Regions from separate parts of the Homo sapiens genome. Here regions 1 and 2 are each linked to region 3. The links come from fine-mapping of genetic effects on gene expression. A gene starts in region 3. Each other region holds a variant in brackets. All regions are shown on one strand. Distances are from middle to middle.

Evidence for each region. PIP is the estimated chance that this variant, and not a neighbour inherited with it, causes the effect.
Region 1: its variant is fine-mapped to the expression of CACNA1H in CD4 T cells (BLUEPRINT, PIP 0.95).
Region 2: its variant is fine-mapped to the expression of CACNA1H in whole blood (TOPMed, PIP above 0.99).

Annotation. Positions count from the first base shown.
Region 1 is chr16:1,192,150-1,202,873 of GRCh38, reverse strand. CACNA1H (calcium voltage-gated channel subunit alpha1 H) reads right to left here. Exons shown (of 35, transcript NM_021098.3): 3 at 7,791-7,902; 4 at 7,309-7,442; 5 at 6,851-6,948; 6 at 4,100-4,259; 7 at 2,303-2,618; 8 at 2,066-2,158; 9 at 422-1,211. LOC124903623 (a long non-coding RNA gene) reads left to right here and starts at 1,163. Exons shown (of 3, transcript XR_007064938.1): 1 at 1,163-1,230; 2 at 1,485-1,542; 3 at 1,653-2,068. RefSeq lists enhancers at 3,738-4,295, 4,296-4,855. The variant G/A (reference allele first, on the strand shown) is at 3,245.
Region 2 is chr16:1,205,244-1,210,509 of GRCh38, reverse strand. CACNA1H (calcium voltage-gated channel subunit alpha1 H) reads right to left here. Exons shown (of 35, transcript NM_021098.3): 11 at 5,245-5,266; 12 at 4,221-4,406; 13 at 3,392-3,509; 14 at 3,080-3,235; 15 at 2,650-2,740; 16 at 2,289-2,497; 17 at 1,098-1,478; 18 at 375-475; 19 at 17-140. Among named protein-coding and RNA genes, the nearest start is that of TPSG1, 17 kb to the left of the region's middle. The variant A/G (reference allele first, on the strand shown) is at 2,570.
Region 3 is chr16:1,146,766-1,157,489 of GRCh38, reverse strand. CACNA1H (calcium voltage-gated channel subunit alpha1 H) reads right to left here and starts at 4,384. Exons shown (of 35, transcript NM_021098.3): 1 at 4,020-4,384; 2 at 3,454-3,770. The coding sequence starts at 3,752. LOC124903622 (a long non-coding RNA gene) reads left to right here. Exons shown (of 2, transcript XR_007064937.1): 2 at 301-518. RefSeq lists enhancers at 2,763-3,530, 4,905-5,485.

The DNA.
Region 1 (10,724 bases), 45 kb before region 3:
ACTCAGCGTCCCCACCTAGAAGGGGGGCCAGCCTCAATGGCCACGAAGGACGCTGCACGTCCTCCAGGGAAGCGTCCAGGCTGTGGACACAAGCATACGGTCCCTCTCGGGGCCAGGCAGGGGCAATGGGATGCTGCCCCAGGAGGGTCTGACAAGCCTTGTCAGATTCAAAATCCCACCTCCGCGGCTACCACTCCTGCCATGAGCTGTGGGCCACCGGGAGCTTGCTTTGGCGCTGTCAGGGGCGGGACCTGCCTCTTTCCCCTTCTTATGGGCTCCAGAGGCATAGCTGGTCTGTTTCACAAGTCAAAGCTGGGCTCATCAGAGTGCCCACAATGGGTGTGGGAATGACACACCGGAGACCCTGCCCGCCCTGCCTAGGTCCCACCGCCTCCTCCGTGGGGTGGGGCTGGGTCCTCACCATGCTCCCCGACCACATGCGGGATCTTCTCGTAGGGATCAGGGCTGTTCAAGCTCAACGGGCCGTGCCCCCCGGTGCCTGGCGGTCCACCGGCCCACTTCCCCTTGGGTCCGGGGCTGGTGCTGCCTTTGCCGCTGCCCACCCCTGAGGGCAGGATCGTGGGGTAGTTCATGGTGCCCAGCCCTGTGGCCAGTCTGAGGCTGGCAGCGGCAGTGGCTGCGGCATGTGCCACCCGGGCCCTCTCCTGCGGCCCCTCTATGTGGCAGTCGGCATGGTAGATGCTGTGCACAGACTCTGCGTCGGGGGGTCCGCGGCCTGGGGAAGGTGGCGAGGGGGGCGCGCCAGCTCGGACCAGCCTGGTGTCGCAGGCGCCTGGCTCGGGGCCGGGCCTGCGGGGGCTGCCATGGCTGAAATGGTAGTGGTGGTGGTGGTGGTGATGGTGGTGGTAGACCAGGTGGTGCACCGAGGCTGTGTGCCTGCCTGCCCGGCGCTGGCGGTGCCCGGGACCCTGGCCTTGCACAGCACTGGGGTCCACCTTCTTGCGCCAGCGGCTCTGCCAGCGGGCGTAGAGGCGCAAGCTGCGCCGCTTGACCTTGCGGAATATGTGGCCCACGTACTTCAGCAGCTCTTCGTAGCAGCTGCCAGGCTCGGAGAAGCTGGCCAGCGTGCTGTCGTTGGACAGGTGGCGTGCCCGCTGCTCCCGCATCAGCTGACTCTCCCGCTGCTTCGTCTCCGAGAACTGCGTGGCAATCACCACCAGGCACAGGTTGATCATGAAGAAGGAGCCCACCTGTGACGGGGGCGGGCGGGTAAGTGGCAGTGAGTGAGCGAGTCTCTGATTCGCCACTGAGCCCTACTGTGCGCTGCCTGTTCGAGTGGGGGCCGCGTCACAGGCACAGTGGGCGAGGTGCCCTGCTATGGGCAGGCTGCTGCGGTGTTCAGTGCTGAGCCCCCACGTCTGGAGCAGACGGCATACAGTAGCTGCTTTGTGCCTATCTGGACAAAAGACCTGGAACCCTCTTTCCTGCTTCTCCATGTGGCTCGGCCCCTCCTTTACCTGCAGATCTGGCCTTGAGATGACCCTCTCAACGGTGGCCACTCTCCCCTCCCCAGCACCCCAGGTGCGTTTCCTCCTTAGCATGGACCAGCGTGCAGCAAGTCTCTAATCGTTCGCTTCGCTTGCTCTCTCAGAACAAGCTGGGGACGTCTGTCTGCTTCTGTTACCTACTAGGTCCCCGCAGGGTGGCTCTAGGTATACCTAGGACCCCACAGACGTCTGCGGCCTGATTAACCCAACTCTGCCAGGACCCACTGGGGCCTATGAGAGGACCAGCTAAGGAGCACACCTGGGGCCACACACGCCCGTGGAAAGCGGTGCTGGGAGGCTATGCACTCCCCAGGGTGTTCCTGGCTCTTCAGCCCTGAGCCAGCACCCACAGGCCTGGACCCTGTCTAGGTGATGCCATGGCCTCTTGGGGTCCCCAGCCACACCTCCCCACCCCCGCAAGCTCTGCCTCCCTCCCCTGTGTGCTCCCTTCAGCTGGAAGACAGACAGGAGCCCCTATGACCACCCAGGTACCCCACCCCACCCCCAGCCAGCTAACACCAGGGCCCATCATGGCGAACACTGCCGCCCACACTCACGATGATGAGCAGGATGAAATAGATGAAGTTGTAGAATGAGTGGGCGTCCATGACGTAGTACATGATGTCCACCCAGCCTTCCAGCGTGATCACCTGGGGGGGCAGTGGCTTGACTTGGGCCCGCACGACCCCTCCTCCTCCTCCCCGTGCCCCTGGGGTCTGGGCTGGGGGGGGCGAGTCCTGCACCCGCTCCCCTGCCGTGCCCCAGGGTCCCCGTCCCACCATCTTGCCGCCCACCTGGAAGATGGCAATCCAGGCGTAGCCGATGTTGTCGAAGTTGATGGCACCGTTGTGGGGGTTGGAGTCACCCGAGCGGCACACGTTGTAGTACTGGTTCCAGTTGATGCAGGCGTTGCGTGCAGCGCCCACCCCCTCGGCCTGCGGCTGCGTGTAGGCCTCCCAGCCCAGGGTGCAGGGCATGCGCAGCTCGCGGCGGCCGGGGATGTGCGAGCACTTCTGCATGCCGTTGTCTCGGCGTGAGGAGCAGATGAACGGGTTCTCCTCGCCCTCCTCCGTCTGGTAGTACGGCCGCAGGAAGGTCAGGTTGTTGTTCCTGGGGATGGGCACAGCCAGGGCCAAAAGGTACAATCAGGGTCAGGGACGGTCAGAGTCGGGGGCACGATTGTGATCAGGGACGTGATCAAGGTCAGGGACGTGATCAGGGTCAGGGCCAGTGGACTAATCATGGTTAGGGAGGCACGGTTAGGGTCAGGGGGCATGATAGGACTGAGGGTCAAGACCCGGATCAGGGGACACAGCCAGGACCAGGGTCAAGAACACAGTGGTGCTGCAGAAACCACACTCTCCTCAGCCCAAGTCCACAGAGACAAACACACAAAGAACAGGGATGGACAGAGAAATCAACAAAGAACAGCACAGACAAACAGGGAGGGAGACCCAAGAGCCAGAAACCCAGGCTCAGACCTCAGCAACTCCTGGAAGCGGATGAGGGGCAAAGGGCAAGGGACGAGGGGAGGGAAGCCTGGGGTGAGGGAAAGGAGGCAGCCCTGGGGTGAGGGCTGAGAGGATCCAGGGGTGAGGGCTGAGGGCAGGGAACCCCGGGGTGTGGGCTCAGGGGACCCTGGGGTGAAGGCTGAGGGGAGACTCGGGGGTGAGAATTGAGGGGAGAACCCGGGGTGAGGGTTGAGGGGACCCCGGGGTGAGGGCTGAGGAGAGACT[G/A]CAGAGCAAGGGCCGAGGGGAGACCCTGGGGTAAGGTGTGACGGACTCTGGGGTGTGGGGAGGGGATGAAGTGTTGGGACTAACCTGTCTTGGGGGCTGAGAGGTGGCAGCACTGGGGGTGGGACATATGTGCAATGACCGCACGGTGGGTGGAGCCATGATGGGGGTGGGGCATATATGCAGCGACCGCACGGTGGGCGGAGCCATGATGGGGGTGGGGCATATGTGCAGCGACCGCACCGTGGGCGGAGCCATGATGGGGGTGGGGCATATGTGCAGCGACCGCACGGTGGGCGGAGCCATGATGGGGGTGGGGCATATGTGCAGCGACTGCGCGGTGGGCGGAGCCATGGTGGGGGGTGGGGCATATGTGCAGCGACTGCACGGTGGGCGGAGCCATGATGGGGGTGGGGCATATGTGCAGCGACCGCACGGTGGGTGGAGCCATGATGGGGGTGGGGCATATGTGCAGCGACCGCACGGTGGGCGGAGCCATGATGGGGGTGGGGCATATGTGCAGCGACTGCGTGGTGGGCAGAGCCATGGTGGGGGGTGGGGCATATGTGCAGCGACTGCGCGGTGGGCGGAGCCATGGTGGGGGGTGGGGCATATGTGCAGCGACTGCACCGTGGGCGGAGCCATGTGGGGCGGTGACTGCCAGCTGGGCGGAGCCATGATGGGGGGTGGGGGCGGGAGACAGCATGGTGGACGGAGCCATGACGGGGACAGCAGTGGCGGGGCGGGTGACTGCACGGTGGGCAGAGCCACGTGGGGCGGTGGAGCCACATGGTGCGTTATCTGCATGGTGGGCAGGGCCATCTGGGCAGGGGCCTCACGGGGGTGGGGCCTGGGCACCTGACAAAGGCACTGTCCAGGAAGCAGCGGTTCCGCAGGAGGCCAGCCCAGAGCTGGACGCCAACGATGCCGAAAATGAAGAAGACGAAGAAGCACAGCAGAAGGACGTTCCCGAGCATGGGCAGCGTATCCAGCAGCAGAGTGACCAGGATCCGCATGCCTGTGGGCAGCAGGGCCAGGATTGGCACTGCTAAGCCCTGCAGGAGTGTCCTCGGGGCTGCAGCCCCTCCCGGGACCCCCGAGCCCCGTCCACTGTTCACAGTGGGTGTCCACGCCCACTGCACACTGACTCGGGCCACCCCCTGGTGATTTTCCCGCACCCCTAGTGTGATCGGGACTCCCCTCCTACCACCACCGGCCTCCAGGGACACTGACACCCTGGGGTCTGACGTGCATCCAGCGGGGCGCCAGGTCTCCACCTCCAACCATCCCAGGGCAGCAGGTCTGCTGCTTTTGGAGGGCTGGGGTGTGGAGGGGCAGGAGTGGAGGCAGGGGACTGGCCGAGGCAGGGAACTGGCTGCGGCAGGTCTGACCACGTGGCATCTCGGGCTCGGGATGACCAGGCGGAGCCCAGTGGCCCTCGAGGCTTGTCTGGCGACACCCTGAAGTTGCCACCAAGGCAGCAGGAGCCTTGGGAGCCCCAGAACCTCAGGTGGTGGGCTGCCTCCTGGGGGTCTCTGCAGCAGGTCTGGGATCCTGAAAACTTTGTCTGATTCCCAGTGAGAATCCTGCCAGAACAGAGCCCCATCTCAGAGAGAGGCTGCTGGAGGCGGTGGGGAGGACCGGCAGCGGCTTTTCAGGAGGTAGCACTGAAGCCATCGGTCCTGGGTGCTATGGGCTACGTGAACTCCAGATTAATCCAGCAAGTGGGTCAGCCAAGCCCCACGCGCCCCTCGCTCCATCCTGGGCCTGCTCCCCCAAGACGTCCTTTCCCTCAAATTTAATCAAGGGCCAGGCTAAGGCAGCAGGTAAAGCCCTGGGCCAGGAACCTGGGGACGCTGAGTTCTCACCCAGCACCCAGGGGTATCAATGGCAAAACGGGCCCCTCAGGTCACAAGGGTGAGTCAGAGCCAGGAGGAGCACTGAAGTGTCAAAAGAGCCGACCGGAGCAGACAATCAGTGAGCACTGCCCTGGCCAGACCGCAACCGCCTCAAAGATCACAGATGACCCAGAGGTCAGAGTGGACCCCTAGCCAACAGAACAGGATGCAGCCCTGAGCGTGTCCTCATTATGAGAAGCGTATTATCCAGTCTGGAAGAGTTCCCTAGTTCTCTCCTAGAGACAGGAGCAGATCCCCAGGAGGCCAGGCTGCTGGCGACAATTAGGGCCACTCTGGCAATTTAACCTGAAAAGTAAACATCCATGGAAGGAAGGGGCTGTGTGTGCTGGGTTGCTTCACGCTTCAACAGGTGGGGCCAGGCCGGCGTGCAGACTGAACGTACAGTGGGTGCCGGGCAAAGGGCCAAGAGCCACACACGCGTCCCCTCACCGCACGCTCAGCCACCCTTGGGGTCATGGTTACTCCTGTACTGCACTATTCCAGGAGAAACTGAGGTTCAGGCTCAGCTAGTTGCTCAGAGTCACACAGTATTCAAGCCCTATCTGAGCCACACAGTAGAGCCAAGGCAGGCAGGTGGAAGGCAGGCTCAGGGACCAGCGGCACGAGGATGACCCACCTGCCCTTCGGGAAGCCAGAGGCCCCATGGGAAGGAGTGCCTAGCCTTGGGGGTCTGTGACTTTGGGGGGTTGCTGCAGGTCAAGCCCTGAGTGCCAAGGCCACCAGGACCCAGGTCAGGCAGCCAGAAAGGCTGTGTTACACCCGCACGTGCACACACGGGGCCACATCTACACGCAGTATGCACTCGCGCCTGGTACGGCCTCGTGGGGGCCGCGCCGACCCCCAGGAACCAGAGCAGTTGAATGTAGCCCTGAGTGCTTAAAGAACGATCCCACCCCATCCCCTGATGCAGGTGGGTGGCCCGGATTTGACAGGATGTTTCCCAAACAAGCAGGCATATGACTTCCTGGAAGCTCTTCCTCCGCCTCCCCTCACACCCAGCGCACAGCAGACACACAGCAGCTCCTCTCCACCAGGCCCCCTCCTCACACCTGCTGGCCAAATCCTGAAGGATTTCCAGCCTTCCTTCTAGAAAATCAGCTGCTCAGCAGGGGACACGGAGGCCCAGCCCTGGCCAGCCAACTTCCCCTTTCCTTAGGTGGGGATCCTGGCAGGAGAGTAGGGGCCAGAAGCAGTGGCGGGTGGGGAGAGCGAGGTGTCCTCAGGACAGGTGTCAGGCTCTCCCCTCACTTGTGTGGGTGTGAAGGCGGGGCTTCACAGAGCCCCCAGGTGAGCTGAGCCACACCCACAAGAGTGTCTCCACCACGAGCCACACCAGGATGCGCCAGACAGCAAAGCCACCAGGGATCTGCTCGGCCTCCAGCCTTGCCCCAGATGCCATGCAGAGAAGGAACCGGAGGTTCGGAGTGGCCCCTGTCACTCGGCTGTGTGGGAGCCAGGTACCCTGTGAATGCTGACTGCCCACCACACCGCAGCTTGATTCTCCCCTGACATGCAAGGCCCACGGATAGCGGCAGGGGCCACCCCACTGCTGGGGTCTGGGCTGGGGCCGGAGTGCCTGGTAACCTTCATTTCCCAGTCCTGTGCTCCTGGGGGCCCTTTTGAGAGCTCTGCAGGGCTGGCGGACACGCAAGCCTGTTGATCTCAAGCCCAGTCGGGGCCGGTCACTTACTAGGCACGCGGTTGATGGCGCGGAGGGGCCGCAGCACCCGCACGGTCCTGATAGCCGAGAGGCTCACGTTGTGTCCGTCCAACGAGTACTCCATCATGCTGGGGGCGGGGCCGAGGGGGAGCAGCTCAACAAGGAGCCCAGGTGGTCCAGGGTGGGGCTGGGGTGCAAAGTAGGGTGGGCAGGCATAGAACCGGCCAGCCCGGCACCCGGAGGACCTTGTACTGGCCAGGAAGGGCCCCGAGGTAGCAGGAGCACAACGCTTGGTCACATCAGGAGGCCACCTCCCTCACCTGTGCCCAGGAGGGAGGGTCTCCGGAGTCCCAGACAGGGTCCCTGGCTCTACCTGGATCCCTCTAGAACACACCTCCCATTTTTCTTTACAGGTGGGACACAGGGATCCCTGTGGGGTGGGCGGGGCCCCTTCGCCAGCGCTGTGGCCTCTCCCAGGCGGGGCCTACCCCGCCACGACGATGAAGAAATCCAGCCTGTTCCACGTGTCACCCAGGTAACACTTCTGCCCGAACAGCCCCAAGGCCACCATCTTGATGACCATCTCCACCGCAAAAAAGGCGAAAATGAAGGCGTCAAAGGCCTGCGGGAGGAGGCATCAGGAGGGCCCGTGGAACAGCTCAGCTCAGCCCACAACCCCCAACCCCAGCCCCGCAAGAGCCCGGCCCCCAGTCTTGCCACACCCCTCGCCCCGCCCCTGCCCCGCCCTGAGCCCCAGGAACTGAGCCCTGCCTCGCCTTGAACCTCGCCTCTCGCCCTGCCCCACCCCCAGCCCCACCTCGCGCCCCGCCGTGAACCTCGCCCTGATCCCCGACCCTGACCCACTCCACGCCCCACCTTGAACCTTGCCCCGCCCCCGCCCCACTCCGCCTTGAACCATAAACCTCGTAGCGACCCACGCTCCTTCCCCACCCCGACCCACGCCCCTCACCTCCAGGATGTTGCAGCGCTCGGAGCCGCACTCAACGTCCTCACAGGGCCGGAACATGCCCAGGGTCACGCAGTTGAGCATGATTACCAGCATGCTCACGTGCTCGAACCATGTGTCGCCGCGGGTTAAGGAGCACACCGGCGCGGCCCGGGACCCGCTCCCATGGGGCCCTCCAAATGCCCACCCGGTCAGCCGGAGCCCCGCCACGGGTGTGCGCGCGTGGGGGTGTCCAGGATGGGGTGGGGGACTCGGGACCGACGGCCGCCCCTCCTGAAAGCAGCCACCAGGTGGCGCCTGGGGCCTGCGCCTGGCCGGGCTCTGCTCCGTGAGGGTCCCAGGCCCGGCCCCCTGGCCCTCGGCGTTGGCTCATCAGGAAAGCGGGGTGCAGGAGCCCTCGGTGGGCTGGCCGCATCGGTAGTGAGGCCCCAGTGAGGGCCACTCAGACTCCCAGGGCCTAGCTGCCCACATGGGGCCCAGGTTGCATAGGGCTCCCGCGCTGGGGGGCTGTAGGCAGGGCACCCTGTGCAACTGGGAGGGCCCCAGGGCAGGGGGAATGTCGGGGCACCGCCATGCAACCCACCGGACAGGACTCCCCGTCCCACCCTCCAGGCCTGGACGGTGGCACAACTCGGGGCAGACTTTCCAGGGCCCCTGTCCCAGGGCTGCGCGGCCCCACCCTGACCAGGGAACCAGAGGAAGGAGGGAGAGGCAATCCGTCAGCTGACTGTGGACCCAGGAGGGACCTTCCTTAAGGTAGAAGCCGGCATTTGGAAAGCACCAACTTGTCAGCGAACAGCCTTGGGAAGTCAGGCACCAGCTCTGACAGTCCCTGCCGTCACCAACACGTGGGAACCGAGGAGGAGACAGAGCTGGGCATCCTCTCACAGCTGATTCAGGGGCAGCCCGGTGGCCGCCCCCACCCCTGGCTCTGGACTTGGGCCTGTGCTTGACTCTCGGGGGCCGCCCTTCCCAGCACCCACCTGGCGCAGACCACAGGCCTCAGCGCCCACGGCTCCCCCTCACCCCTGGCAGGCCTGCTTGGGACCCGGATGATGGTGGCAGCAGCGCCCCCTGCCCAACACGGGCCACGCTCACTACAGCGGAGGTCCTGGGTGCTGCGTGCAGCACTGGGGTCAGGGTCTGAGTGTCTCAAACTCTCAGGGATCACAGGAAGGGCAGCTGCCACGGTAGGAGGGGAACAGGCTTGGTGACGAGGGCCTTCCCTGCCCCCACCTGTCACTCCAGCCTGGAGCCCCTCCCCCAGGGACCCCAGCAGCTCATCCTGGAACCCTCCCTCCCACCAAGCCAGGGCCCAGCCTCCTAGCAGGTCAGCATTTGATGCCAGTGCCACGGCTCCAGGCCACCAATGTAATTACATATTCCCACCAAGAGTGCGGTAATTACACTTAATGGGTTCAGCGGTAACAGGCGCCTCTGCTGTAACACTGCTGCAAGAAAGCCGAAATCAGCCTCCCGCCAAGGCAGCTGGCATGCTGGCACAGCCACGCGCTGTCCCATAGGTGGGCAAGGCCACAGCACGCACTGCCGCCTACCGATGACGCACCCACTGCGACCCCAGCGGCCAGAGTGTGTGAGCGCCTTCACGGCAAGCCTCAGAGCACAGTCCTTGCTGGACGAGGTGGGGGTGGGGTTTGCGTGCCTTGGTCAAGGTGGTGGGGGCAGGAGCCGAGGCCCTGCTGTGGAAGCCGTGCCAGGCCCCTTGGCCTCTCCCAGCCTCCTGACCCGGCACTAGTGCAAGGGAGCGATGGTGGATGGCGGCTCCGCCCCCAGCCTCGGGCACCTTTGTCCCCTAACTGCCGCAAATAGCACCTTTCTGCGGGGGTGGCTGGGGACTGTCTTTGTGCATCTCTGAGGGCCATCATTTCCCGAGGGGAGGGGTTTTCTTGGGTAAACGGAACAGGCTGGCGGGGAGGAGCTCAAAGACACCCGGCCCAAACAGGACACAGCAGGCAGGTGTGGGGAACGGTGCTCCCTGACCTGAGCCCCCACGGCACTCTACCCCAGCCTGGCTGAGCCAGGGGTCTTGTAGGTGGCACTGCCTCTCCCTGGGCACAGGGCATCCCAGGCCTCAGTTTACCCATCTACCCAATGGGGGGTGGTGGGACTGCTTGTCCTGTGGGTGCCTCGGACCGCCTTTCTGTCTCCTCTCTCCACACTCTCCTTCAAGTTGGGCCGGCTCCCAACCAGCACACACACATTCCACTACCAAAGCAGGCAATTTCCAGCCACCCCTGGACTCCAGGACTGAGGGCTGAGACCCGCCTCCAGATGTCTCCAGCCATTGCCCGATTTCTCCCAGGCCTGCCCCATGTTTGCTCTCAGATCACCCCGGAGACCCCCCAGAAATGTCCAGGCTGGAGCAGAGGGTGCCCTAGGCTAGGGGGCTACCTGGACACAAGGCCTTTCACACCCTCCCTGTACCCCAGCTGGCCCCCAGCCACTTGCCTGACCCTGGCAGTTCCTGCCACCCTAGCCAGCTCAGGACTTTGAGCTAAAGCTACGGCATGGCCTTCCTGGCACTGAGGGGAATGCTGACTTCTGGACCCGGCCCAGACCCTGAGGCGGAGGGCCCAATGGGGACAGAAGGGAAGGGGCCAGCACCCCTGACCAGCCATCTCTAAGACTGTCCAGCCAGCAGAGTGGAGTGGATGGTGTCAGAGCCCAGGGCCCATCAGTGCCAGTCACCATGAAAGCTGCCCACGGCAGAGGGGCTGGCAGGGGTGGGTGGCACCCAGTGCCTAGCAACTCCTCAAAGACAGCTGACTAGGGGTCCCCAGGCCAGGGTCCTACCTGGACACCTTTGCCCCCTCTGCCATGCCACTGAGACCCACCCCAAGCCTTTGTGACTGGCAGCGAGGGAAGCCAGGAGGGGGCCTGGGTGCCCCTCCCCGACCTCTCGGACCGTCTGGTTTA
Region 2 (5,266 bases), 56 kb before region 3:
GGGTTGGCTGACTCACGGTGCTGCCGGGATCAATGTCAGGCCTCTCCAGGGCGATGGTGACGCAGTTGAGGAAGATGAAGACGAGGACCACGTGATCAAACATCTTGTGTGTGATGACCTTCTGGCAGGAGACGCGGAACCTGGGTGGGCGGGGGCGGGTGAGAGGTGGGGCGGGGCGGCGTGGATGGCAGAGTGGATGGGGGTTGCAGGACAGCCCTGGCCACGCCTCCACTTCAGCCCCGGTCCCTGCGGTGTGAGAAGGGGTGCCCACTCGGAAATATCCACCATGTGCTAGCCCCACCCAGGAGGGACCTGGGGGCGGGGGTCCCGTGGGGTGGAACTAGCCATGCAGCCTCCTGACCCGGCCGCCTCACCGGTTCTGTGGGGAGAAGAGGTAGAGGGCCCAGGCCTCGCGGCTCCGGCACCACTGGGGCTTGTAGGGCTCCAGCACTTTATGCAGGCGGAGGCAGCAGCTCTGTGGGATGAGGCGGCGGCTTCTCAGAGCCTGCGCCTGCCTGCCCGGCCCCCCATCAGGGCCCTCTGTGCTCAGCTCGGCCACCCCTCCCAGCACCTTCTCAGCCTTCTCCATCCTCACTCCTCACCCGCTGGCCTTTGGGCTCTGGCTTTCTGGCCTCTGGGGCCCATACCGTGGAGCCTCCCCCTTCCCTACGCTGGTGACGGCAGAGTGACCCGTGCTGGAGTCCACGGGGCCAGGTGAGCGGGTGCTCTTGGGTCCCTGACTCTGGGAGTGGTCCTTGACCCACGGAAGCCTGAGAGCCTAGCGGATGCCTGGCCCTGCCTCGGCAGCAGCTCTCGGCCAGTGGCTGACCCACGGCGCAGAGCCCAGCCCCCGTATGCAGGCCGTGCGTGGAGCGTTTAGCTCACAGCCCCTAGACGGCAGAGGGGGGACTCTGGGATCATCTGTGGCTGAATCCCTGAACACTGCTGGATTCCTCCCTGGCCTGGCCTGCTTCTCTCCCCTTCTGAATCCCCTCAGTCAACAACACGCCCTGAATCCCATCTCAAACCCCACTTGAGGGAACCTGCCCCAGACAGACGAAGGCGAGTCGGCGGTGGGCCCAGGGCCACGCACTCACGTCCTCCGAGTCGTCGTCAAGCTCGGCTGCATCCTCACGGTGGCTGTCGATGCGCAGGAAGAAGTCGCTGGGCAGGGCCACCACCTGCCCGTCGCGATCGCGGCACTTGGTAGGCGGGAGGGCGGCCGGCCGCAGGGGCCGTGGGTCCAGGGACTCGGCCCGCCGCAGTGGGGTGGCACGGGGCCCGGGCGCGGCCCTGCCGTCCTCAGCTTCGTCGTCGGTGCTGCCCTTGCCCTCGCCAGACAGCAGGGACTCACGTTCCCCACACTGGCCGCGGCGCTTGAGGCTGGGGGCACGGCCCAGGCTGCTCCAGCTGGAGCGCCGGCTGCTCCAGGCGCCACTGGGGCCCCAGGGGGCACAGGGAGAACTTCGGAGGCTGGCCTGGGGGGTGGCGGGAGTCAGTGACCTGGTGGCATCACTATTAGCACCGACCGCTGTCATTACGGAGCACCCACTGTGTGCAAGCCACACGTGGATCATTTAATGCATAGCCCCGCCAGGGAGGCACGGTGGAGGCTGTGATTTTAGGGGGACACCGAGCCAGCCACAGGCGTAGCTCATGAGGGTCAGGGTGTCCGCCTCGCGGGGGTGATGCCCTGGGCTCTGCTGGGTCAGGGGCCAGAACCAGCCCAGGACCAGACAAAGTGTGGGTGGCCCCCGTGTCCCCAGGAGCACACTGGGCCTGCGGCTCTGCCTCACAGCTGCCCCGCTTCCTCCCCTGCTAGGGCGTCTGGCTCACTCCCATCCTCCGTGTCTGTTGTGGGTGGTACTGCCTGGAGTTCGTTTCAAAACTGCTCCCCTCCAGTCCCCCTGGACCCAGAGAGATGCCCTGGCCGTAAAGGGAATCGGGCTGCTTCTGGTGGCAGCGGAACCCCCGCCTGGCCTGCCGTCTGCTTGCCGGGCACGCTTCTGCCCCTGCTTGCTTCGGTCTTTCTGTGCTGTGCGCTGTGCACTCTGCTAGACTGTTGGGCGCACAGAGCTTCCGCGTCTGCCCCTTCACACCGGCCTCACACAACAGCAGCCACAGCTTCCATTTCCGGAAACCAGAACACTCTTTCTCAGTCTCTGCACAGGCTGGGACTTCAAGGGTGTGGGGGGTGCGGCCCTCACTCATCTTCAGGGAAGGCCATAAGGAGCCAGGCAGGGAAAACCTGAAGGGGCCTGAGAGCTGGGGCAGGAGATGGTCCCTACCGGAGGCTTCTGGTCTCCCAGTGGCGGGTCCCCGGAGCTGCTGCTGCCACGCCGAGAGTCTGGGAGGCTGGGGGCTGCATCCAGGAATGGTGAGCTCTTGGGGGTAGGCATGGGCGTGGCAGCTGTGCACATGATGAGGGGAGGGGACAGGCTGCCTCGTCCCTCCAGGTGCCCGTTGGGGGTCACGGCCAGGGAACACATCTTCAGCTCTGCGGGACAGAGGGAGGAATGGGCCCCTAGAGCTGCCAGGCTCCCAGGACCAGGAATCCCCCAACCTAGGG[A/G]TTGCCTTATGGGGGCCCTGCCCGGCCAGCCCAGCGTACTCCACCCGCCAGAACCCGGACCACCCACCGACCACACGCACCTGTGGTCTGGAGTTCTCTGAGCTTGTGGAAGTCCTCCTCGAAGTGGACCGACGTCTTGTCCTCGTCCGTGTCGGATCTGTTGGCATCGCCCTAAACCCAACAAAGCACAAGGCAGGCATGAGGGGCCCCGTGAGTGGGGACCCTTCATGCCGGACAGAAGTCTGGGCTGGCCTGGGAGGTGGGGTGTGGACAGAAGGGCCCAGAGGATGATGTCACTGCCAGGGTGGGCAGGTAGGTGAGGAATCTGCCTCTCCCGACCGACCCCTGCCCACTCCGCTGGGCTCCTGGCCTCCCCTCTCCTCATGGCAGCCAGCTTCCCTTCTCTATCCCTCACCTCTTGGCAGGCCCCCCACACCCCTCCCCTCGACCTGAAGCCCGTCTCTCTTCTCATCGCCCTCCTCCTGGCAGCCCCTCTCCCTGCCCCCTCACCTCCGCCTGGAAGCCCTCCACGAGGATGGCCACCAGCAGGTTGAAGAGCACATAGTTGCCGAAGGTCATGAGGGCCACGAAGTAGAGGGCGGCCCAGGAGGAGGTGGAGGCCATGCCGTTGTACAGGACCACGTTCCAGTCCTCCTGGGTCAGGATCTGGGGGATAGCAGGGGGCCTGGGGTGGTCACCCCAGCCCCGAAATGCCGGCAAGTCCTTGGGGCAGAGGCAGCTATGGATGCGCAGGACGGCACCTCCACCTCTCTGGGGACCACACTCAGCACCCAACACTGCTGCGGGGACCCCGGGCACTACCTGGAACACGGTGACGATGGCCCACAGCAGGGAGTCGAAGTTCTTCCTGTCAGGCACGGTGTCTCCGGTGTCTGTCTTCAGGCTGAACTTGCAGCCGAAAAGGTGCATGCCCAGGATGCTGAGGGTGGGGGCAGGGGCGTGTTGAGGGTGGAGGCAGGGGTGTGCTGAGCGGAAGAAGGTGGGGGAGCGGGAGGGGGGTGGGAGGAGGGAGGGGCAGGACTGGCTCTGCCCGTCTTGGCTCTCCTGGCCTCCTACCCTCCCTGGGCGCCCGAGCTCTCTAGCTTAAAAGGGACTTCCTGCCCTACAACTCAGTAGTGTCCATTCCACAGGCGAGAGAACCAAGACCAGAGGCGGGACAGACAGAGGGAAGCCACTCTGGATTTGGGTGGCAACTGGAACCTGGGACACCTGCCTCATTCAGCCTCTCTGGACTGTGAAAGCCCGGCCTGCCTGGCTGCCTAGCCTCCAGCCGACCCTGACCCTGAGCTCCAGGCTAGACGGGCACACAGCAGGCGCTCAGAACACCCCAGTTGGAGCCTGGTGCCTGCCCCCACCCCCGGTATTCTGCTCTTGAGTAAATCCCCAGCTTGTCCACCTGGCGGCCCATCTCTGACCCCTGCCATCTGACTCCCTGCATGTCTAACACGTGGCACACAGTAGGGGCCCAATCAGTGCTTCTCAAATGAAGGCAGCAGAGGCCGAGTGTCTGCAGATGCTCTGGGGCTGCTGGTGGGAGGGCTCCTTCTCCTTCGGGGGGTGCCCTGGGCCTTTGCCTCCCAGCTGCCCTGGGGTGAGACACTGGGCGGGCCGGGAGGGGGGTTGCGCCCACCTGAAGATGAAAATGAAGAGCATGAGCAGCGTGCAGAAGGTAGCCACGTTGTCCATGGTCTTCACCAGCACCACGAGCTGGCGCCGCAGGGCTGGCAGAAAGCGCACCAGCTTCAGCACACGCAGCAGCCGGAAGGTGCGCAGCACAGACAAGCCACCGTCCGCCTGCCCCACGATCTCCCAGACGCTGCGGACAGGTGGGGGCGAGGGTCAGCGGGGCCACGATCCCTGACCCCAGGCCCTCGTCCCACTGGAAGCAGGGTCACCAGCCAGGGAGCCACAGCGGCCTGTGCTGCATCCCACAGATGGGAGAGGGTATGGCTGCATCAAGGTGCATGAACAGCTGCGGAAGCACCTCAAAAGCCGCTTATCCGCTGATGGCCCCGGGGGCTACCCGGCCCCCAGTGCCCCCTGGGAAAGAAGCCTGGCTCTGGCCAGGGCAGGGAAGCTCCTTCGCCGAGGGCGCTCTCCTATCCTGGGCCTTCCACAGCCAGACCTGGCTTGTCCGTTCTGCTCACTCCCTCCCCGCCCCAGGATGGGAGACCCTGCACCCCTCTCTACTCTTGAGGGATGAGCGTCCTCCTAGGGGAAGACCGGGGGCGTTTCCCCTCAAATTTTCCCAATCCTTTCTGGTTTAATTTTCTTGTAGCAAATGCTCCTCCAGCAGCAAGCAGGATTCAGCCTTTTAAGCTGGTCTTTCTCGCTCGGCCCTGAGGCCACCCCACACCTGCTTTGTTCCTGCAGGAAACAGCTCCGCTAGTTTCTAGAAACATCTGAGACGCAGCTGACCTAACAGGTGCGCACCCCGTAGTGCCTGCAGGGAAGCATAGCGTCTGGGGAGGGGACTCTGCCCAGGACGGTCCCTTGGGCCACTGGGGTCACCAAGCACCTGCTTCCCACGGCCTGTCATAAAGAGCTATCGTCGTACTTCCTCCTGTGCTCTGGGTTTTGCTCTGCAGGTGGGATTTCTGCCAGAGAGTGGAGCTTCCCGGGCCCCTCTTCCTGGGGAGAGGGTGGGGACCCACCTGATGACCACGATGATGCCGT
Region 3 (10,724 bases):
GAGTGTTCAGAGATGCCATGAAGGGCTGTCTCAGGCTCCCGCAGCTCGTCCCCACCCAGGCAGCGCTCTGCCAAACACGTGGCCCTCAGAGCCAGGATGGGCTCACCCAGCTCTGTCCTTCAGCATCCCGATGACCTTGATATATCCTTCCCCATCTCAGAGCTCCGTGACACGGGGTGTTTGGAGCCTGGGCCCCGGGAGACGCCTCCCAGGGGGTCCTGCCAACCCCCAGCCCCCAAGCACCCCTTGGTCACCTTCTGGTCCCTACACACCCACAGCCCGCCTCCCTCGCTCTCGCAGGGACCGAAGCAGGGTCCCCCTTCCTGGCCTCCAAGCATTCCCGGGGGCCCCGCCCCGTCCGTGTGCCGGGACGGCGGCAGCTGTGTCGCAGGCGAACGCGGAGTCAGGAACCCCGGGAGTCCGGGCAGCACATAACCCAGCCGGGCGACAACACACAGATCCCACCCACCTTTCTCTATAAATAAACCTGTGGAGGAGAAGCAGCGCTCGCCCCAAAAGTTCTAAGACAATTATATTTTTAAGAAACCAATCAATAAGGATAAGGGCGTCCTTGGAGGCTCCTTTGCCTGGGATGGAGTCACCCTGGAGATGGAGCCAGCACGCATGTGCTCCCTGGTGCTGAGCGTCTACCCCGGGGTTCAGGAGAGGTTCAGGGATAAACGCGGGCCCTCCCCCAGGTTCCTGTGCTGACTGAACCCCGGCTCAGGCTGGGCCCGGCGGACAGCAGCTGGGGCTCTGCCAACCCCCGGGAGCATGGAGTCACTTTACTGAGTGTGGGTTCCCTGAGCAAATCCGATTATCCCTCCCTCTCAGAGTTCACCCTCTTCAGGAGGGATGCGGGGCCCTGCGGAGGGAGGGGAGGCTGAGGCCCAGGAAGCACCCTCTTGCTACGGGACACACCCCAGCCACACCAGTCGCCCACCGCCCCTGCCGCCTCCTGCAAAGCCTCCCCCTCCCAACTCCCAGGAATCTGAAGCGCTCTGGAAAGCCTCAGCCATGGCCCACATGGGCTTCCCCGGCTCAGCCAATCCCCCCACCTGTCCAGGCCTGCCAGCTTATTTTAGGTTCTCTCTGACGCCAGGACACACACCCTCGCTACAGGCCAGGCATCTGCTGGTGGTCACACCCACCCCCATGCAGCCGGGGCCTCCACAAGCCCACTCCACCTGACCGACGGGCGTTTCCACGGGGCCAAGAATGAACCAAGCTTGGGGTCTAAGCTCTGCTTCCCATGTCTCCTGGAGTGGGGACACCCCCCATCACTGCGTTTGGAGCTGGGAGAGCCAAAGCGTGCCAGAGGTGCTGGCGGCGAGGAGGGTGGGGGGTCCTGCCGTGCCGCAGGCAGACCCAGTGCTCCAAGCAAGGGATGCCATCGAAGGGCAGGAGGCCGACCACCCATTCTCTCCCAGCCCAGAGAGCCCTGGGGACACCAGGGATGGGGCATGCTCTGTTCTTCCCAGGCTGAGAGCACCATCCAGCCCCCGAGACCAGGACAGCACCCAAGTCCCTCTCGGGCTACCAGAGCATACTCCTGTCAGGTCACAAAGCCCAAAAGGACAGCTCCTCAGGACACCGGGGGACAGCGCTTGGGTCACGTGATGCCGCTGGCCCCAGCCCTCCTCTCCCCCTGGAGAGCTCATCCCACCTGCATGAGGCCACCCAGCCAACACCTTCCCTGCACACAGCAACGCAAACAACCTCCTTGGAAGTCCTGAGACACACAGCCAGCCCAGAACACCGGGGCCAGGCTCCAAAACTCTCTCAGCCGAGAGGGGACAGGACAGCCAGGCCCGGGGCTGTGAAGAGAGTCCATGCCCTGCTTGGGGATGGGGCAGCCAGGCCCGGGGCTGTGAGGAGAGAGTCCAGGCTTGCTCAACTCTTTCCCTTCTCCGGTCTGCACACGTTGGGAAACAAGGAACGCAGGCCTTGGCTCGGGGCCAGCCTCCCATTCCAACCCATGCAGTCCCTTCCAGACCCTTCCCCATGGCCTGCTGGCACCGCCGGACTAACCCCACACCCAGTCACCTCCTACCAGAACAAAGGGGCATGACCACCTCCCGCCTTGGTTCTAGAGAGGAGACAAACCTACAACCGCTCTTCAAGGCCGGGCCTGCACCTCGGCTCCCGGGGACACCCACCTACTCGCAGACACCACCCTGAGGCTACAGAGGCCTAGGCCGCCCGGGCAGCGGGTGTGGGGCTCCGAGGCAGCCCTCTGGCCGGGGCCGGCTGCCCCCGGGACCACAGCAGCCTCCTCTTCCTCTACAAGCAGAGATGAGTCTGACTCACTCGATGTTTGGATTTGAGAAAGGAGAAACACGGGCTTTATGACTTTTTTTGTACAGATTCCTCTTTCGTGTTTAATATTTGTACAGTTAAACACACAAGGTAGGGAAGTGTACACAGGCCGCTCCTGCTGCCAGCCTGTCTCCCCACCTCCGACGGGGGACGTCTGCGGGCAGGGTCTCTCCACCCGTCCCCAGGCCCGGAGCAGAAGCCACGGCCTGGCCACCCCAGCTGCCGGCTCAGAAGGGCCGGTGGGGAGACCCGGCCCTGACACAGGCACCACGCAAGGCCCTTCTCAGGGCACGCGGAGACCCGCCCCCAAGGCCACCTGCTGGGGGGCCCCCTGGACCTCCGTGTACATCCCACAAATGCCCCTGGCCCTGACCCAACTCTGTTCTGGAACCTTCTCTGCAGTCTGTGCCGCTCTGGCCGAGAGTAGAAGAGGCTGCCTCTTCCTCTCCAGCCAGGGAAGGGGCTGGGGAGATGAGACTCCCCCTTGGCAGTGCCAATTGCCTCCCTGCCCCCTACCCTTCAGCTGCGCATGACTTAAGTCAGCCCCGCCACCGAGTTCAGCCAGAAAAAGCGAGTTCACAACCAACGTCACCGCCTCTCTCCACGGAAAAGGCCCTGGCGGCGCTCACAGGCCCCACGGGTCTCCCCACGCACTCGGAACCACCAGGCGCCGGCTGAAAACTTTGCGCCCCTGACTCCAGCTCCTCTGGCCTCCCCCTCCCCCGCGAGGGGCCTGCCTCGGGCAGGACCTTCAGACAGTGAGGGGTGGGCAAGGGGGAAATTCCCGTCCTGGCCAACACCCTTGGGGCCGCGAGGAGTTAGGACCTTCCCTCCCTCCCCGACTCCTCTCCCCTCCAAGCCCGCGGGGGCCTCACCGCTTCGCTTCCACCTTCTCCGTCCGGAGCCGGCCCTGGGGAAGGGAGTCCGGAGGCGCCCGGTGGCCCCCCAAGCCCGCCACTCTCAGAAATTAGAGCGCGGTCCTCCAGCCCCTGCCCTGCACCCCCGCGCGCCCGGCCCACGCCAGGTCCCACCAACAGGGGCGCGCGGGGGCGCATGCCGAGGGAGTCCCGCGCCCCGGGCCCCCACCCTCCCCACGCCCCCCGCCCCCCGCCCCCCGCCGGCCGGGAAGGATATGGGTTGCAGACCAGCCGGAGGCACCAGCTGCGCGGCCGCGTGGTCTGACCGAGGCAGAAGAAGACCGTGGCCGCCAAGGCCGGGTACGGGACGCGCTGCTCCTCGTCGGCACCCAGCTCCGCGCCGCGCTCGGCCGCCGGGCTCTCGGAGGGTGACACGCCGAGCTCGGACCCCCGCTCCGCCTCGCGTCCCGGCGCCCCGGGGCTCTCCGGGGACGCCCCCACCAACGCCGCAGGGCCAGGGGGCGGCGCGCCCAGGGGCACCCGGACCTCGTCGGCGGCCCGTGCGCCCTCGGTCATGGTGGCGGCCGGCAGCACCTGCAGAGGACAGGGGGTGACCCGGGGCCGGTGGCGACGCCCCCGCCCTGCCTCCCGCGGCGCGGAGCTGCGGGAACAGCCGCGGCCGCCGGGATGTCTTTGTCTTTTCTTATTAGAGACAAACGCGCCCCCCGCCCCCGCCCGCCCCCTCCCTCCCTCCAGCGGCCCCACCCCCACCCCGAGGGGCTCCCCGGCCCGCTTCGCGCAAGTTGAAGAGGGTCCCGGGCGCGCGTCCTCGCCGCGTCTCACCTCGCTCTGCTGGCCGGCGGCGTCCCCGCGGGCATCGCCCGGGCGGCGCGGTCACCGCGGACCCCGCTCGGCGCCCGGCCCCGGCCCCGGCCCCCAGCGCCTCCGCCCCCGGCCCCGGCCCCGGCCCCCAGCGCCTCCGCCCCCGGCCCGCGTCCCCAGCCCGCCCGGCTCCCGGCCGCGGCTCGACTCCGGCTCCGGCTCGCCCGGCGGAGGCGACGGCGGCGGCCTCGGCGCGGCGTGGAGGCCGCTGAGCGGACGGGTGAGGCCGGGGCGCGGGGCGCGGGGCGCGGGGCGCGGGCCGGGGACCGGTGAGGCAGCGAGCGAGCCTCGAGCCCGTCCGCGCGCGGCGCAGGAAACTTCGGGCTGAGCGGCGGGGGGCGGGGCGGGGCGGGGCCGGCGCGACCGGGGCGGGGCCAGCGTGGCCGGGGCGGGGCCGGGGGCGGGGCGGGCGGGGGGGTACTGGGGAGGATCCGCCCCCGGCCCGAGACGCGCGCGCCCGAGCGACCCCTCCCTGTCGCCGCCCGGCGCCCCGCCCCCCCCCGGGTGCGGGAAGTTGGACCCCGCCCGCGCCCCCTCCACGCCCCCGCACTGGGCTCCCCGCTTTTCGTGCTCCCCAACAATGCCGGGCGTGGGGTGCACCAGGGGGCGCTCGCGGGAGGCTCCGGCGGGGTGGGAGGGGGAGCACCTACGTCCTTCCCTGCCCCCAACTGCGGGGGCGGCCGAGCCGCCGATGCCGCGCCCCTCCCCCTCCCGCTCCGGCTCCCCCTCCCCCTTCGCGCTGCCGCGCGCGCCGCCGCCGCCCCCACCCCCACCCCCACTACGACGCGGGCCCGGGTCGGCGGAGGGGCGGGGACCGGGCGGGCGTGGAAGGCGAGAGGCTGCGTGCCCCTTCCCCGCCGCGTGTGTGTCCCGGGTGTGCCCGCGCGCGCGTGTGTGATGGGGCGCGGGGGCGGGCGGGGGTGTGCTTTACGGCTGGGCGCTCCTGCACTCGCATCTCTCCCCGACACGCACGGGCAGTTTCCGCGAACTTGTCCTCGTCTCCGGTCCCCTCCCGCGTGGGGATCTGGGGGACCCTGGGGACGGCAGCCTGGTGCTCCTGCATCCTCCAACCCCGCTGCCTCAGCGAGACTCACCCAGGGGCCCCCGAGGAGAAGTGCAGGCCCCTTCCCCCTGCCAGCAGCTGCTCCTTCAGCCAGGCCAGCAGAAGGGCCTTCCCCTGGACCCTCAGAGCAAGTGGTTTGGTCGGGAAGGGGTGGACCCTTCAGACATTGGGGATGGCCAGGCCCTTGTCCCAGGGAGGGCTGGCCGCACCTCGAGGTGCCAGCAGGTGGGGGCAGGTGCCCAGGCTCCTGACTCCCCCCAGGGCACCCCTCCAGGCTGGAAGGGTGGTTTTGCTTCTGGGACCACTGCTTTGTGCACCAGGGAGCTTGAGCTCCCAGGTGTGCACCTCAGCACGCCCGCCAACAAGGGGCCCCTGGTAGTGGGAGAGACCCCTTCTCCCTCCAGACAAAGAGGCCCTGCTCCAGGGCGCACCCTGAGACCCCAGACCCGGAGAGGCTGTGGGGCGGCTGTGGCTTCCCACCTGCGGGTGAGCAGCAGAGAAGCAGGACCTCCCCCGGGTGGGCCACATCGTGCAGGGTGAAGAAGAGGCCCTGCCCAGCTGGGGCCCGGAAGGACACACAGCACCTGGGGTGGGCCGAGGAACTGGAAGGCAGGAGTGTGGGGGCCTGGCTGGGGTACAGGTCCTTTCAGCAGCACCTCCTCCTGTATACGGGAACTTTCAAGAAAAGGAAAACATTCAGTCTATTTTAATGCAACTACTCAGCGATGGAGGGCCACAGCTGGTGAATTAGGCCTTCAAAGGTCCAATTAAGGTTCCAGCCACAGAGGAGCAGGACCTAGGAGAGCCCCGTGCTTTGGACACATCCGTGGAGGGAGGCTGGAGCAGGTGGGGAGACACAAACGCTGAATCGGAGTCCGGTCCAGAGGGCACTTGGAACCTCTGATCTTTTTATCAACACCCTGCTCGTTAAAAGTTAGGGTGGGCCAGGTGCAGTGGCTCACGCCTGTAATCCCAGCACTTTGGGAGGCCGAGGTGTGTGGATCACTTGAGGTCAGGAGTTCGAGACCAGCCTGACCAACATGGTGAAATCCCGTCTCTACTAAAATACAAAAATTAGCCAGGCATGGTGACATATGCCTGTAATCCCCGCTACTCGGGATGCTGAGGGAGGAGAATCACTTGAACCCAGGAGGCAGAGGTTGCAGTGAGCCGAGATCACGCCACTGCACTCCAGCCTGGGTGACAGAGTGGACTCTGCCTCAAAAAAATAATAAGTTAATTAATTAATTAATTAAAGCTAAGGCAAAGCCACAGACTGAAGCTCCAGATTCTAGCTGGGGGCTGTCGTTGATTTGCTGGACAAATGGTAGTTGAGGGTGGACAGTGCGCGGGGCCCGGTTGGAGGGTGGAGGTGCCTTGGCTGTGACCAGACAGACCCGGTTCTCATGCCTGCAGCTTCCGTCTTATGGGGAGGAGAAAACAGTTTCCAAACTAAGTGCCAGGGGGCGCCCAGATAGACGAGGGCGGGGCCTCTGTGAGGACAAGCCGGCAGCCGGAAGAGGAGCAGAGGCTCTTTCCAGCAGCAACGGCAGCCCATGCAAAGGCCCTGTGGCAGGCCGGAGGGAGCCGGGGAGCGGGAAGACCCAGAGGGCGCCTGGGAAGCATCTTGGAATTCTGAACACAGCAGCTGTTGCCCTCCCGGCCACACTCTGTCCTCCAGATGTCGGCAGAAGGGAAAAAGACCACGGACTTCTATAACAGACTTTTTTTTTTTTTTTTTTTTGAGACATAGTTTCGCTCTGTATCACAGGCTGGAGTGTAGTGGCGTGATCTCGGCTCACTGCAAACTCCGCCTCCTGGTGTCAGTTCAAGCGATTCTCCTGCCTCAGCCTCCCGTGTAGCTGGGATTACAGGCATGTAATTACCATGCCCAGCTAATTTTCATATTTTTAGAAGAGACGGGGTTTTGCCATGTTGGCCAGGCTGGTCTTGAACTCCTGACCTCGTGATCCGCCTGCCTCAGACTCTGAAAGTATGGGGATTACAGGCGTAAGTCACCGCGCCCGGCCCACAGATTTTTTTTAAAGAAAGTGTCTGTAATCTGAGAAAGCGTGCAGTCGCCAGGCATCCCACGGACAATTTGCAGACCAGTTGGAGCCTCTCCAGCACCCGGGCGGGCATTTTCCAGCTCAAGGTCTGGGACGGAGGCTGCCTCCCACCGCTTTCCGTTCACTCCAGCCCATCGGATGGCGTGCCCACCTTGTCCTTGGGGGCTCTGTGTCCCCTGGGCTGCTGCCCACTGACTTGCACGCTCCACGTCCGGCGGGACAGGTGCCCGCACGCCTGGAACATGGATGCTCCCTGCTCTGAACATCCATCTGCCGGAAGATGAGGCAGCTGAGGCCGCGTTCACGCAGCCGGAGCGGGGACCACCTCAACGCGACGTGAGGGCCTCCACCGAGAAAGGACATAAACGGCAGACGGTCCAGTGAGACGAGACGGGAAATCGTCCTGAGAGCGGTGATGCCGTGATGCGCGCCCTTCGCTGAGCGTCAGAGAGAAGCCCAGGACGGTTGGAAACCGGCATTGAGATGGTTTAATTCAACTCCAGAACGTTCAGATGTATTGTTTCTAATCCTCCAGGTCTCTGGAAAATTTGCTTCTGGTTTTCGCTGTTTCCTTTTTTCTTTTTTTGGCCGGGGTTGTTTTTAAGGGCAATGCTTTTCTTTGACAAAGAGCTGCGGGGAGAGAGTACAAGTGACCTCCTAGCTCAGCCATCATGTGGCGGAACCCAAGAAGGTGGGGTGGGCTTCTCGGGGTCTCCCACGGATTTCAGCATCCCCCACGCTGCCCAGGGGAAGGAGGACGTCGGCAGTGGGGCCCGGCATGGCAGCGATGGGACAGGCACGCCCTGACTGGTCCTCAGCTCCCTGTAGCAGTGGGGCCCGTGGCTGGTCTGCCAGAATCTGGACCAAGGGCTGGTGGACAGAGTCCTCTCCTGGCAAAGCCTGGAGAGCCAGCCGTGGCGGTCACTGCCTGGTGTCCAGTGAGACCCCTTCTCCCAGCCAGCTCTGGGTTCTGCTGCTACGTGTGGCCTGTGAGCCGGGGACCCAGGTCACCGCCACCAAGGAGGCTGCCCACGCGGCCAGGAAGCCAGGCCCCGGGAATATGCAGACAAGAGGGGCGTCCCTGCCTAGACTGGCCCCTGCAGGGATCGGCCTCCAGGGCAGGCAACAGGGCCTCTCACTGACACAGGCTCGGGCCCTGCCTGGCCAGAATGCTTCTTCCCTGGGAGCAGCCTCGGTGGGGCCCCATTGAGCCGCAGACTCAAGGGCAGGACGGAGCCCGGTAGGTCGCCCCGAAGCATGGCGGGCTCTCACCTTTGTCCTGCCATGGAGTCAGAGACACGAGACCCTGGAGTGGGGAGCAGGTGAGTGTCCTTTGCTCCTGCCTAGCATCCAGTAGGTGCCAATAAATACCTGCTGACTGGGTGGCTGAAGGGACTGCGCTGGCATCCCAAGGAATTTTGGGATCCACCACCCTCGAGACCGTGCTGGGCGGGAAGCATGACCCCACACTGTGGGATGGGGAGCCTGGTGGCTGCCGGCTGGCGCGCACCCCAAGCCCTTTCCTGGGCTCAGCTGTGAGCTCAGGACGGTTTAGACGCAGCAGCAATGATTTTAAGAGTTGCCGTGTTAAACGGTGATAGCCTGTGACGGTGCTGTGTGCGGAAACATCCGATTTTATTGCCGCTGGGTGGACAGCGCCGTCTAGACGCCGCTCACCCTTCTCACCTTCGCAGTTGTCTGTGTGGAAGACGGGAGAGGCAGGGGCACCACGCCACTGTCCCCAAGACCGGCCCCCAGGCACTGCGCGGAAGAGGCCGTGGCCTGTGAGGTGGCCCTTCCCTGCCCTGGACAGGCTGTGGAGGGGCTGCAGGCGGAGGCTGGGCTTGGGAGTGCTTGAAGGATCACTGGGCTGTGGAGGGGCCCGCAGGCCGCCTGGGGACCTGGGGAGGGAAGCTCCGGGCCTTTCTCTGGCTCTGCAGACGCACGGCCTGGGTTCAAATGCCAGCTCCACCACTTCCTGGCTGTGTGGCCTTGGACATGTGTCTTACCCTCTCTGAGCCTTAAATTTCCTTCTCTGGAAAATCAATGCTTCATCAAATAAAAAGTGATCATGAACAGGCAGTTCCTCAAATGATTAAATATGGAATTACCATGCAACCTGGCAATTTCTGTTCCGGGTGTGCCCAAGAGGAATGAAAATGTGTGTCCACACAGAACTGTGGACTCGGGTGTCCACAGCAGCATCGTTCACAAAAGCCAAAGGTGTAGACATCCCAAGTATCCCACAGATAAGCAGATAAAATGTGGCCTCTTCATATGGTGGAATATTATTCAGCCATGAAAAGGAATGACACAGCCGGGCGCGGTGGCTCACACCTGTAATCCCAGCACTTTGGGAGGCTGAGGCAGGCAGATCAGGAGGTTGGGAGTTTGAGACCGGCCTGATCAACATGATCAACACGGAGAAACTCTGTCTCTACTAAAAATACAAAAATTAGCCGGGCATGGTGGTGGGCGCCTGTAGTCCCAGCTACTCAGAAGGTTGAGGCAGGAGAATCGCTTGAACCCGGGAGGTGGGGCTTGCAGTGAGTAGAGATCACGCCGTTGCGCTCCAGCCTGGGCAACAGAGCAACATTCTGTCTCAAAAAAAATGACATTCTGACACACGTGGATGAACATTGAAGACATCACACCAAGTGAAATAAGCCAGACACAAAATGACAAACATCATAGGATCATTAGATGAGATTTTCAGCACAGGTAAATCCATAGAACAAAGAGGGGTGGCTGCCAAGGGCTGGGGGAGGGGGGGTGGGGGAGGGGAGACGTCTAGCAAGCAGAGGGTTTGTTTGGTTTGGATGTGTGGCCCCCCCTCCAAATCTCATGTTGAAACGTGACTTCCAGGGTTGGAAGTGGGCCTGGTGGGAGGTGTCTGCACCAGGGGCGGATTCCTCAGGAGTGGCTTGCTGCTGTCCAGTGATGATGAGTGCTTTCTTGCTCCAGTAGTTCACACAGCAGCTGGCACCTCCTCCTCTCCCTGGCACCCTCTCCCTCCATGTGACTTTTGGGTTCTCCTTCCTTTCTGCCATGATTGGAAGCTTCCTGAGGCCTCCCCAGAAGCAGATACCTGCGCTGTACTTCCTATACAGCCTGTAGGACCGTGAGCCAAATCAACTTCTTTTCTTTAGAGATCACCCAGTCCCAAGCATTCCTTTACAACAACACGAAACAGACTAACACAGAAAGGGGTTTATTTTAGGGCGGTGACAGTTGACACCACCATAAAAGCTGCAATCCAAGCTTTTATGGGGGCCAGGCAGGAAGATCATTTGAGCCCAAGAATTTGAGACCAGCCTGGGCAACATACTGAGACCCAACCCCGTCTCTACAAAAAAAAAAAAAAAAAAAATGAAATAAAATTAGCCAGGTGTGGTGGTGGTGCCTGTGATCTCAGCTACTCGAGAGGCTGAGGTAGGAGGATCACTTGACTCTGAGGGGTCGAGGCTGCAGTGAGTGGAGATTGTGCCACTGCACTCCAGCCTGGGCGACAGAGCGAGACCTGCAGAGACGGCT